3 linked regions of the Homo sapiens genome follow. The protein of the gene in region 1 interacts with the protein of each later gene in a pairwise test. Each region holds a gene or a part of one and is shown in the gene's direction. Other genes may lie near its edges. The genes, in order: C1orf94, MVP and CCNJL.

Region 1 (3,651 bases):
ATCCATTTCAGCCAGAGCTGTTTAGCTTTTATCAGTTTTACTTACTAGAGTTCTGAGTAGGGCTGAATTTGAAAAACATGTTTCTGCTATTGAGAAAAGAGATAGGAAACCAATGACTTAGACGAATAAACGACATCCTAATTGTCAACCAAATAGAACACAATGAGCTATTCTTAAAATAAAGGCGGTGTGCTGGTGGAGTCAGATAACTCTGGTTTCAGATTCCATTTCAGCCCCATGCCATTTGAAGAATTTGTTACTCTTTAATTTATCTAAACTTTGGTTTCCTCATCTGCCAAATGGAGATTAATACTATACATTTTGTAGGGTTGTTGGAATGATTAAATGGGATATTTAAACATTTATGGTAATAATTCAGATTTGTAAAAATTCCTTGCAATTCAGATGTGATCATTTCTTTAAGCTCTACAATTATTGCATGAGGTAGGTACTCTTTTAAACTTTCCATCTCTTTTTACTTTTTATTATGCAAATTTTCAAACACATAGAATAATAATATGGTGAATATCTATGTGTCTATCACTGAGTTTCAATAATTATCACATTGTGCCATTCTGGTTTCAATTGCTACCTCCACCCCTCCATTTATAAGTGAAATTACTTTTACAGATAACGTGGCTGAGGTTTGGAGGGGTTAATTTCTTTGCCCAAGCTCCTACAGTTAGGAAGTAGTAGAGTTTCAGAAATGAAACCCAAGACCGCCTTGGCCCTGAGGCAATAATGTCGGCTGTCCTGTCTTAGAATCTGGGGCATCTTTGAATAGTCAAAATAGTTGGGAGTCCCATATACTGAATGATCACACACAGAGTGAAAAGCCAGGGAGCTGTTCTTACTATTTCTAGAATGCCTTCAGGTGCACAAGATATCTCTCAGCTGGTCTTTCTGCTGCTTAATTTGTAGACCTGGTTTTGGTGGTGTTTTCTTGTATTGTGGTAGATAGGTAAGTGCATTCTACAATTCTTTTTGGCCAGAATTTGTTTTTCTTGACTCTGCACCTATTTATCATAGGAACCTAGACATTTCAAATTTGAAAGAGATTTTTGAAGCCATCTTCCGCTGCTCGAATCCCCTCCTTACTGTCCCTGCCAAGTGGTGCACTTGTACCACTTGGTACAGTTTATCAGATGGGGAGCTTACCACTTCCCTTTGCTGCCCCTTCCCTTGCTATGAACCCCCTCAAAATACCTTTTGCTTTCTATCACTGAAATATGTCTCTATCAAACTAATTCCCATTGATCTGGATTCTGCCCTTAGTACTCCAAGCCAAATCTATGTCTTTTTTCTTTCGATACCCCTTTGGATAGTGAAAGACAGCAAGACAGCAACAATATTCCTCCCAGAATGTTTTTGTCTCTATAAGCTAACCACCTCTGGTTTTCTAAGTTTCTCCCCATGTGCCAATTTGGTTAGTTTCCTGTCCACACTGTTGGTCCTTGTGGCAGTGTAACTTTGAAAGCCAAGTACAATAATCCAGGGGTGATCCAATCCATGCAGATTTGATCCTCCCTGTCTGCATTCTGTTTCCTGTTAATGACAACCAATACTACACTCACTTTTTTCCCCAAGTCGACTTTCACTCTGTGGACACATTTTCAATCTCTTAATTCATTCATTCAATTATTCATTCAACAGATATTTATTAAACATCTACTATATGCTAGAACTGTGTGAGAAACTAGGGGGATGGAGCTGTGAACTCCATTAATCCCTGCCTTCCTAGAGCTCACATTCTAGTATAGGAGAAAAAAGAAGCAAGTAAATACAAAAGCTATGATATCTTCAGAATGTGAAAAGAATGGTATTCCCAGTGGAGGAGACCCATAAGAAACACACAAAAATAAACAAGATAATTTCAGTGACAACTGTGATAATGGAAATAGAGCAGAGGGAAGTGATAGGAAGAGCTCCTTTAGTCTGGGTGTCAAGGAAGGCTTCTCTGAGGAGATGTGATTATCTGGGCTGAGACCTGGGTTCTAAGAAGGAGCCAGTCAAGGGAAGTTCTGGAAAGAACATTTGGGCAAAATGGAGAGCAAGGGCCAGGCATGGTGGCTAAAGCCTGCAATCCCAACACTTTGGGAGGCTGAGGTGGGCAGAACGCTTGAGCCCAGGAGTTCAAGACCAGCCTGGGCAACATGGCAAGACCTCATCTCTACAAAAAATACAAAAATTAGCTGGGCATGGTGGCACACACCTGTAGTTCTAGCTACTCGGGAGGGTGAAGCGAAAGGAACACTTGAGCTCAGGAAAGTCGAGGCTGCAATGAGCCAAGATTGCACTACTGCACTCCAGCCTGGGCGACAGAGTGAGACCCTGTCTCAAAACAAAACCAAAAGGAAAAGCAAATGCAAAGACTGTGAGGTGGGAGTGAGCTTTGAGAGGGACAGCGAGACGGGAGAGTCAGGAGGGATGGGGACATGGCCATGGTATAAGTATAACAGAGACAGGCAGGCAAGGCCTCAGGAGGCCTGGAGGATCACTGCGGGGAGTTCAGATTTTATTCCACATGTTATGGAACACTTTTGCAGGTTTTTAGGAAGGGGTGTGACATGAACAGATTCACTAATGTTTGAATCTCTGTCCAGCTTCTGTGTGGAGATGGTTTGTAAGTGTGTGGGAGAGGAAGTGGGAGGCCTCTGGGAAGATACTGTCAGAGTCCAGGGGAGGCCTAATGGTGGCAGTGGCTGGGTAGGAGTGACTGCAGTAGGGATGGAAAAAGTGGAGGATTCAACTGTGTGTTTTAAGATGAGCCAATGGACCTACTCATGATTTGGGTACACAAACAGACACATTGAGGCTCATGCTCTGCTTCACGCACGAGTTCACTTGACAAACAAGGATGGGGGCATGCATCACTATCAATGTGACTGGGGTGTTGAGACCGAACACTGGCAAACTCAAGGTGGGGAGTGTAGGGCCTCAGAGCAAAGGATTCCAACCTGTGGCCCATGGGGTCTCTGAAGTAATTCCCCAAATGCTGAGAGCTGGGAGGATGTCTTTCCGGCAAAAGGGTGTAGAGAAGCTTTCCTCAGATTTTCAAAGAGGTGTTGACCCCTCCAAGAGGAGAAAACACTAGCCAAGAGCATTAGACTCCAAAGATCTCCAGAGCTGGTTTCTAGTCTAAGACATCAGCCTGAGTTCCATGTCTGAGTCTTGTCTTTATCACTCCCATCACCAAGTTTCAAGCTTTCAAAATAATAATGATAATAAAAGAGGCTATGTATTCCAAGCTTGAGCCCCTGGTTGGACGGTGTGCCATTTACAAAGGTGGGGAAGAAATGGGGAGCAATGGGTTTTGGGGGAGAAATCAATAGTTCTGTCTAGTGCTGATTTAACTCCAAAATCTGGTTCAGTTATCTTTTAGTTAGTCTTAAGTTTGGGCTTAGAGAATTGTGGCAAGCCACTTATTCAAGGATTACTTATTCATTCATTCCCCTAATCTCTAAAACTTCAAAGCCTCAGAATGAGGTCTTTGGATTTGCTGTTGACTCCGTTGCCCTAACTACAGAATGACATTTGTTCATTTCTTCATTCATGAATTCATTCAACAAACACAATTGCCTTCGCAGTACCAGGCTGTATGATGGGTCCCAGGGACACAGAGATAAGCAGAACAGAAGCCTTTCCTCAAAG
Region 2 (3,651 bases), on another chromosome or scaffold:
TGTCACCAGATTCATGCCTGCCCCACCCCAGGCTCCCCAGGTTCATCCTGTGTCGTCTCCCCCACCTACCAGTCATCTTCTTGTGAGCCCTGGGCTTAGGAGTCACCATGGCAACTGAAGAGTTCATCATCCGCATCCCCCCATACCACTATATCCATGTGCTGGACCAGAACAGCAACGTGTCCCGTGTGGAGGTCGGGCCAAAGACCTACATCCGGCAGGACAATGAGAGGTGGGTGTGGGGGCTGGGCTGTGGGGGATCCTTGGGGATGTGGGGGCCTGTTTGGCTGGCATGATGGTCCTTATCCTCCTCCCTCTTCCCAAGCAGGAGTGGCCCTCGCTTGGGCGATAGAGAGGTTTCTCTCTCATTTGGTGTCCTCTTTGGTAGTGGAGACCTGGTCCCAGGTCCTCACACCTCTTCTCATCTTCCTGCAGGGTACTGTTTGCCCCCATGCGCATGGTGACCGTCCCCCCACGTCACTACTGCACAGTGGCCAACCCTGTGTCTCGGGATGCCCAGGGCTTGGTGCTGTTTGATGTCACAGGGCAAGTTCGGCTTCGCCACGCTGACCTCGAGATCCGGCTGGCCCAGGACCCCTTCCCCCTGTACCCAGGGGAGGTGCTGGAAAAGGTACCTGGTTTCCTCACTCCCTATGCCCCACCCTACCTGTCCTCCACCTGCCTTGGGCTCTATACTGCTGCCTTCTTCTTCTTTTTTTCTTTTCTTTTTTGAGGCAGAGTTTCACTCTTGTCGCCCAGGCTGGAGTGCAGTGGCATAATCTCGGCTCACTGGAAGCTCCACCTGGGTTCAAGTGATTTTCCTGCCTCAGCTTCCTCAGTAGCTGGGATTACAGGCACCCGCCACCACGCCCGGCTAATTTTTGTATTTTTAGTAGAGACAGGGTTTCACCATGTTGGCCAGTCTGATCTCAAACTCCCGACCCCAGGTGATCCACCTGCCTCGGCCTCCCAAAGTGCTGGGATTACAGGCATGAGCCACTGTTCCCGGCCTGTACCGAGTTCTAAAGGGAAAACAAACCAGGGCAGTGGGAGGGGTGGGGAGAGACACTTGCTGGCTCTCACCAAGGGTGGAATTGACTCACTGTACCTCCACTCACCTCCAGCCACCCCCATCCTCCACACATGCCCCAAACACACCTGCCTCTTTTCTGAGAACTGTTGGCCCATCTCACCTTCCCAGGCTCCAGAGCCTACCAGAAGTGCCCAGCCAGTCTGGCATTAAATGACATGTGCCAAGGTTAAGCAGTTCATTCACCCGGTGCCAGACACTGGTGGGCAGTGCCAAAGCAGCAGTGACAAGCCCAGGCCCCAGGCTGTGCCTGTTCTAGGAGAAGCCATCACAGGCCTGAACCTACAGCCAGGCTCTTGTCCCCGTTGGCCTCAGGCCTGGGCCTGAGCAGGTGGGTGTCCCACCTTCATTCCTTTACCTGTTCTTCCACCTTTACCTTCTGGCCATTTAATGGTTTTGGGTTTTTTGTTTGTTTGTTTGTTTGTTTTTAATAGAGACGGGGTTTCACCGTGTTAGCCAGGATGGTCTTGATCTCCTGACCTCATGATCCGCCCGCCTCGGCCTCCCAAAGTGCTGGGATTACAGGCATGAGCCACCGTGTCCAGCCCCATTTAATGGTTTTCTTACTGACTTTACTAACCAGTGCTGCTTGATCCTGAAAGCATAATAGCAGAACATGGGGAACTTTTAGAGACATTCATGTCCACTTAGGTGCAGACAGTTTGGGGGAAGAAGTGTGTGTGTAGAGAGAAAATGAAGAATGATTAAGACAATAACCCTTAAGGAATCCAAGTGAAAAGTATATAGGGATTCTTGTACCTTTTTTTTTTTTTTTTTTTTTTTGAGATGGAGTCTCACTCTGTTGCCCAGGCTGGAGTACAGTGGCATAATCTCGGCTAACTGGAAGCTCTGCCTCCCAGGTTCACGCAATTCTCCTGCCTCAGCCTCCCGAGTAGCTGGGACTACAGGCGCCCACCACCACACCCGGCTAACTTTTTGTGTTTTTAGTAGAGATGGGGTTTCACCGTGTTAGCCAGGGTGGTCTCGATCTCCTGACGTCATGATCCACCTGCCTTGGCCTCCCAAAGTGCTGGGATTACAGGCGTGAGCCACCGCGCCTGGCCTTTTTTTTTTTTTTTTTTTCTGGATCTCCCCCTGTTGCCTAGACGAGAGTGCAGTGGGGTGATCATAGCTCACTGCAGCCTCAACCTCCTGGGCTCAAACGATCCTTCCACCTCATTCTCCCAAAATGCTGGGATTGCAGGTGTGAGCCACCAAGCCCTGCCTAAGCTTTCATTTTAAATATGTTCAGCCGGGCACAGTGGCTCACGCCTGTAATCCCAGCACTTTGGGAGGCCAAGGTAGGCAGATCACTTGAGGTCAGGAGTTTGAGACCAGGCTGGCCAACATGGCGAAAACCCATCTCTACTAAACATACAACAATTAGCCAGGCGTGGTGGCATGCGCCTGTAATCCCAGCTACTTGGGAGGCTGAGGCATGAGAATTACTTGAACCTGGGAGGCGGAGATTGCAGTGAGCTGAGATTGCGCCACTGCGCTCCAGCCTGGGTGACAGAGCAAGACTCTGTCTCAAAAAAAAAAAAAAAAATTAGCTGGGGGTGGTGACACACCTGTAATCCCAGCCACTCAGGAGGCTGAGACAGAAGGATCACATGAGCCTGGGAGATTGAGACTGTTGTGAGCCATGGTTGTACCACTGCAGTCCAGCCTGGATGACATAGGAAGACCCCATCTCCAAAAATAAAAAAAAGCCAGCTCTTCCTTTGAGCCCCAGTTTCAGTTCAAAGGGCCTTCTCTAACTTCTCCTTCATCTGAACTCCTGAGACAGGGTCTTGCTCTGCTGCCCAGGCTGAAGTGCAGTGGTGCAGTCATAGCTCACTGAAGCCTTAACCTCCTGGGCTCAAGTGATCCTCCCACCTCAGCCTCCCGAGTAGCTGGGACTACAGGTGTGCGCCGCCACCATGCCTGGCTACACTTTTTTTTTTTTTTTTTTTTTTTAGAGATGGGATCTTGCTATGTTGCCCAGGCTGGTTCTTGAATGTCTGAGGTCAAGCAATCCTCCTACCTCAGTCTCCCAAAGTTCTGGGATGACAGGTGTGAGCCACTGTGCCCGGCCTCCACCCCAGTCTTATTTCAGGACATACAGAGATGGATGTTGTGGACCCGCCTCCAGAGCATCAGGCTTGGCCCTGGGGTCACAGCACTGATGGTTCTGTGTCTCCACCTTCTTCCCCACTAGGACATCACACCCCTGCAGGTGGTTCTGCCCAACACTGCCCTCCATCTAAAGGCGCTGCTTGATTTTGAGGATAAAGATGGAGACAAGGTGGTGGCAGGAGATGAGTGGCTTTTCGAGGGACCTGGTAAGTTCTGTCTCCATAGGGCTCCCTGCCTTCCTGTCATAGCCCTGATACCTTCTGACCATCACCTTCCCTCCCCAGGCACGTACATCCCCCGGAAGGAAGTGGAGGTCGTGGAGATCATTCAGGCCACCATCATCAGGCAGAACCAGGCTCTGCGGCTCAGGGCCCGCAAGGAGTGCTGGGACCGGGACGGCAAGGAGAGGGTGACAGGTGGGGTCACCAAGGGGCGATGATGGT
Region 3 (3,651 bases), on another chromosome or scaffold:
AAGAATAGGGGAACTTAGTAGCCATACTAGCCTCGCCTTTCTTGAGGAATGAGGGCTGGCATTTTGTTTTTCTCAGACAGGGTAATTGTTTTTCTCAAATGTCTACTCTGATAATATGTTTCTAACACTGTAGAACAACTTTACAAGAGCGTGGCACACAGTAGACACTCTTAGTTGAATGTTGCCTGATGAATACAAAGCATGTTTACATATGTGCTGTGTAACTGTTTCCATACAACCACAAGCAATTATCCTCACCTGACCGACACAGGAGGCGAAGTTGAGATCACTGAGACGTTGGGAGCCCCAGTTTGTCAAATATGAGATTCCAGTCTGGCATCATACTACAGGGTATCAAAAACTTGACACCATGGAAACAAGTCTTGGTACTGCATGCACGCTAGTGATGGAAGTGAAACCCTGATCTGCTCATTTAACCTCTCTAAATCTGGCCCCTATCATCCATTCTTCCCAGAATAGCCAGAATTTAGATTGTGTCATTCTCTGCTTAAAGACCTCCAATGTCATCTCACTGCACTTAAAATTCCCAGTCCTTACCACTGCGTGGAATACCCAGCATAGCCTGGCTCTGGCCTGCTCTCTGACCTTGTCTCTTACCCCTTCCCTACCCTCCATGCCATTGCTCTTAAGCCACACTGACCTCCTTTCTGTTCCTGGAACAAGTCAAGCTTGTTCATGTCTCAGGGTCTTTGCACTGGCTCTTTCCTCTATTTGGATTCTGTGTTTCTCAGACTCTCACATGGTTGCTTGTCTCCCTTAATCTATTGCTGCCTCTCCATGTCACTCTATTAAATCACCTTGCTTTTTCTTTGTAGCATTTACCAGGATCTGAAGTGTTTTTCTGTTTTTTGTTTGTTTGGTTGGTTGGTTTCTTTGAGACGGAGTCTCACTCTGTCGCACAGGCTAGAGTGCAGTGGCACTATCAGCTCAGTGCAACCTCCGCCTCCCGGGTTCACACCATTCTCCTGCCTCAGCCTCCTGAGTAGCTGGGATTACAGGCATGTGCCACCACACCCAGCTAATTTTCGTATTTTTAGTAGAGACGGGGTTTCACCTGTTGGTCAGGCTGGTCTCGAAGAACCCCTGACCTCGTTATCCGTCAGCCTCGGCCTCCCAAAGTCCTGGGATTACAGGCGTGAGCCACCGTGCCTGGCCTGAAGTTATTTTTCGTTTGTTTGCTGCCTTTCTTCCCACACTAGAATACATGCTACACGAGAAGAGACCTGTGTCTGTCTTCTTCCTTGCGGGGGCCTCAGTGCCATGAACACAGCTTCCCGATGTGTATGGAATGACAAGGAGAATGAATAAGTCAGTCTTCGCTTTCCTCTTCTGTAAGCTGGGAGAAACGTTTTACAGCAATGTTAAGATTAAGTGAGATAACTTAAGAACAGTGTGAGGTGCATGGTGGGTACTTGGCAGGCATTGCACCTCTCCACTTAGGGTTGCTGCAAGACAGTGATGGCCCGTTCACATAGTGCTGCTCAGAGTAAGGCTTAGGGTTTGTGACCACCCTCCAAGGGGTCCACAGATGTGATGGGTAATCCTTGTAAGAAAGGCACTGTTAGCCACTTGGACCATTGGTCCTATGATGGTGTTGAAGTCAGGAAAGGGACTAGTTCACCAAAAATCATGTATCTACTGAGGGCTGGGAACCAGGAGTGAGACCCCATTGGTAAGACCCTCTAAGCAGCCTGGCATCCCAATGGGTGAATGTGGGGAGTTGAACCCTCCTCCAGCCCAAATTGCTCTGGAGAAATCTCTCCCTCCCCTTCCTGTAGGCCACCTTTATCCCATGCTCAGCCCTTAAATTCCTCCTTGGATCCTTCTTCCTGTCCCTGCTGCATCTGCAGAAGCCCACCTAGGACCCCGCTCCCTTCAGCTCCTCTGACCTTTCTGCTGGGGGTGGGAGTGCCAGCCAGTACAGGGATGTGGGGTTTCTTGCCTGCTACGTGTGCCCCTTGACCCTCTTCCCTGAACCAAAAGGAGGAGTAGATTGTCACCAGGCTGGCGTCACCAGTGAGGAGGCTGCTAGTGATGTTTTTCTGGTAACCAAGTCTGTGCCAGGTCTGTCCAGATTAAAACTCGGGGCCATTTGTTTTTTTCTTGAAAGATGCATCCACCTAAGTTTAAAATTAATAGGGTGTTGAATCCAAGAACTAACAGATTTTGGTGAGTGCTGGTTACACATGATGGAACGAGAGCATTGGATGGTATGCAGCTTGAGGGCCACGTTCCTTGTCCCTTAAGCCTCTCCTTTGTCATGTGTCCTGGCCCCACCCTCATCCTTGCTTCTTTCACCATCTTTGTCACCCTGCATAGTGACTTGTCCTACCCACTAGACTGTGAGCTCCTTGCAGGTATGAGGTGTGCCTTGTTACCTTGGCATTCCCAGACCAGTGTCTGAGTCAGAGAGGGACCTCAGGGTGTCCCCCACCTCACCTGATGCAGGCACAGGCATTGGGAGTGCACAAAAGAGTGAGACAGCCCCAAATGGACTCTTCTGGGAAATGTTGAATGAATGCTTGTGTGCAGGGATGCTTCCTGGGAATCCTTCATCTCGTCTTCGGCATCTGCCAGGACAGTCTTTGTGTGTGTGGGCACAGCATTGACTGTGGTGCCCAGCACAGGATCTGGTTGATGGAGGATGCCACCCCAGCTTCCTACAGACCTGCATGTTCTCCTGTCAGGTAACATGGGGCAGGAAGTTAGAAAAGCAATTACCTGCAAGGGCAGATTTACTGGCCTGGACCAAAGTACAGCTTAAGGATCTTAGGAAAATAACTGCAGGTTGCGCCCAGATAACAGAAATGTAGATAATTCCTCCCAGACTTCTAACAGGAGGTCCTGTTTTTCTTCCTGAATTTTCTGAGCAGCAAAGTAGATAGAACTTGCACTCGTCTCCTTTTGATTTATGCCCATTTTACACATAGTCTTCCCTCTCCAATTAGAAGGAAATAGTTATGTTAGTAAGCAAAGACACACACCACTGTGACTTAAGGCTTCATGAGTGTGTAGAAGACTTTCTGAATACAGGGATTTCTGGAGTTCTTAGGGGAAAAAAATCTCCCTCCCAAAGCCATGTTGATAAGCTCTGCTTGACATGAGCTGGTAACTTTATCTTCCTGGGCTCCAGGGAGCCAGGGGCTAGGGGCTCCCTCCTTCTCGTCCACTGGGTGTTTACCTTCTCCCAAGACGGGAGTCATGTGATACCTTAGGGGTCTTCTCATCCTGCTCCAGACTTGAGATCTGCAGGGCAACCAGCCACCTAATGCATTTTTTCCCACTTCCTGAAGCTTACTTCATTGCACACTCAGAGGACTTCAGCTCTGTGAGACCGCTTTTTTTTTTTTTTTTTTTTTTGAGACGGAGTCTTGCTCTGTCACCCAAGCTGGAGAGCAGTGGCATGATTTTGGCTTACTGCAACCACTGCCTCCTGGGTTCAAGTGATTCCCCTGCCTCAGCCTCCCGAGTAGCTAGGATTACAGGCGCACACCACACCCAGCTAACTTTTGTATTTTTAGTAGAGGCGGGGTTTCACCATGTTGGCCAGGCTGGTCTCTAACTCCTGACCTCAGGTGATCCGCCCGCCTTGGCCTCTCAGAGTGCTGGGATCACAGGCGTGAGCCACTG

The links.
Region 2: the proteins of C1orf94 (region 1) and MVP interact in a two-hybrid assay, tested with the Homo sapiens proteins (one large-scale study listed by BioGRID).
Region 3: the proteins of C1orf94 (region 1) and CCNJL interact in binary tests that used the Homo sapiens proteins (3 or more experiments, as listed by UniProt).

Annotation. Positions count from the first base shown.
Region 1 is NC_000001.11:34,179,857-34,183,507, forward strand, and holds part of C1orf94 (uncharacterized protein C1orf94), read left to right. Parts: intron 1-3,651.
Region 2 is NC_000016.10:29,830,443-29,834,093, forward strand, and holds part of MVP (major vault protein), read left to right. Parts: intron 1-31; exon of another isoform or gene 32-72; 5' UTR 73-107; coding exon 108-232; intron 233-435; coding exon 436-631; intron 632-3,290; coding exon 3,291-3,414; intron 3,415-3,492; coding exon 3,493-3,624; intron 3,625-3,651. UniProt on the Homo sapiens protein: Required for normal vault structure. Vaults are multi-subunit structures that may act as scaffolds for proteins involved in signal transduction. Vaults may also play a role in nucleo-cytoplasmic transport.
Region 3 is NC_000005.10:160,306,001-160,309,651, reverse strand, and holds part of CCNJL (cyclin-J-like protein), read left to right. Parts: intron 1-3,651.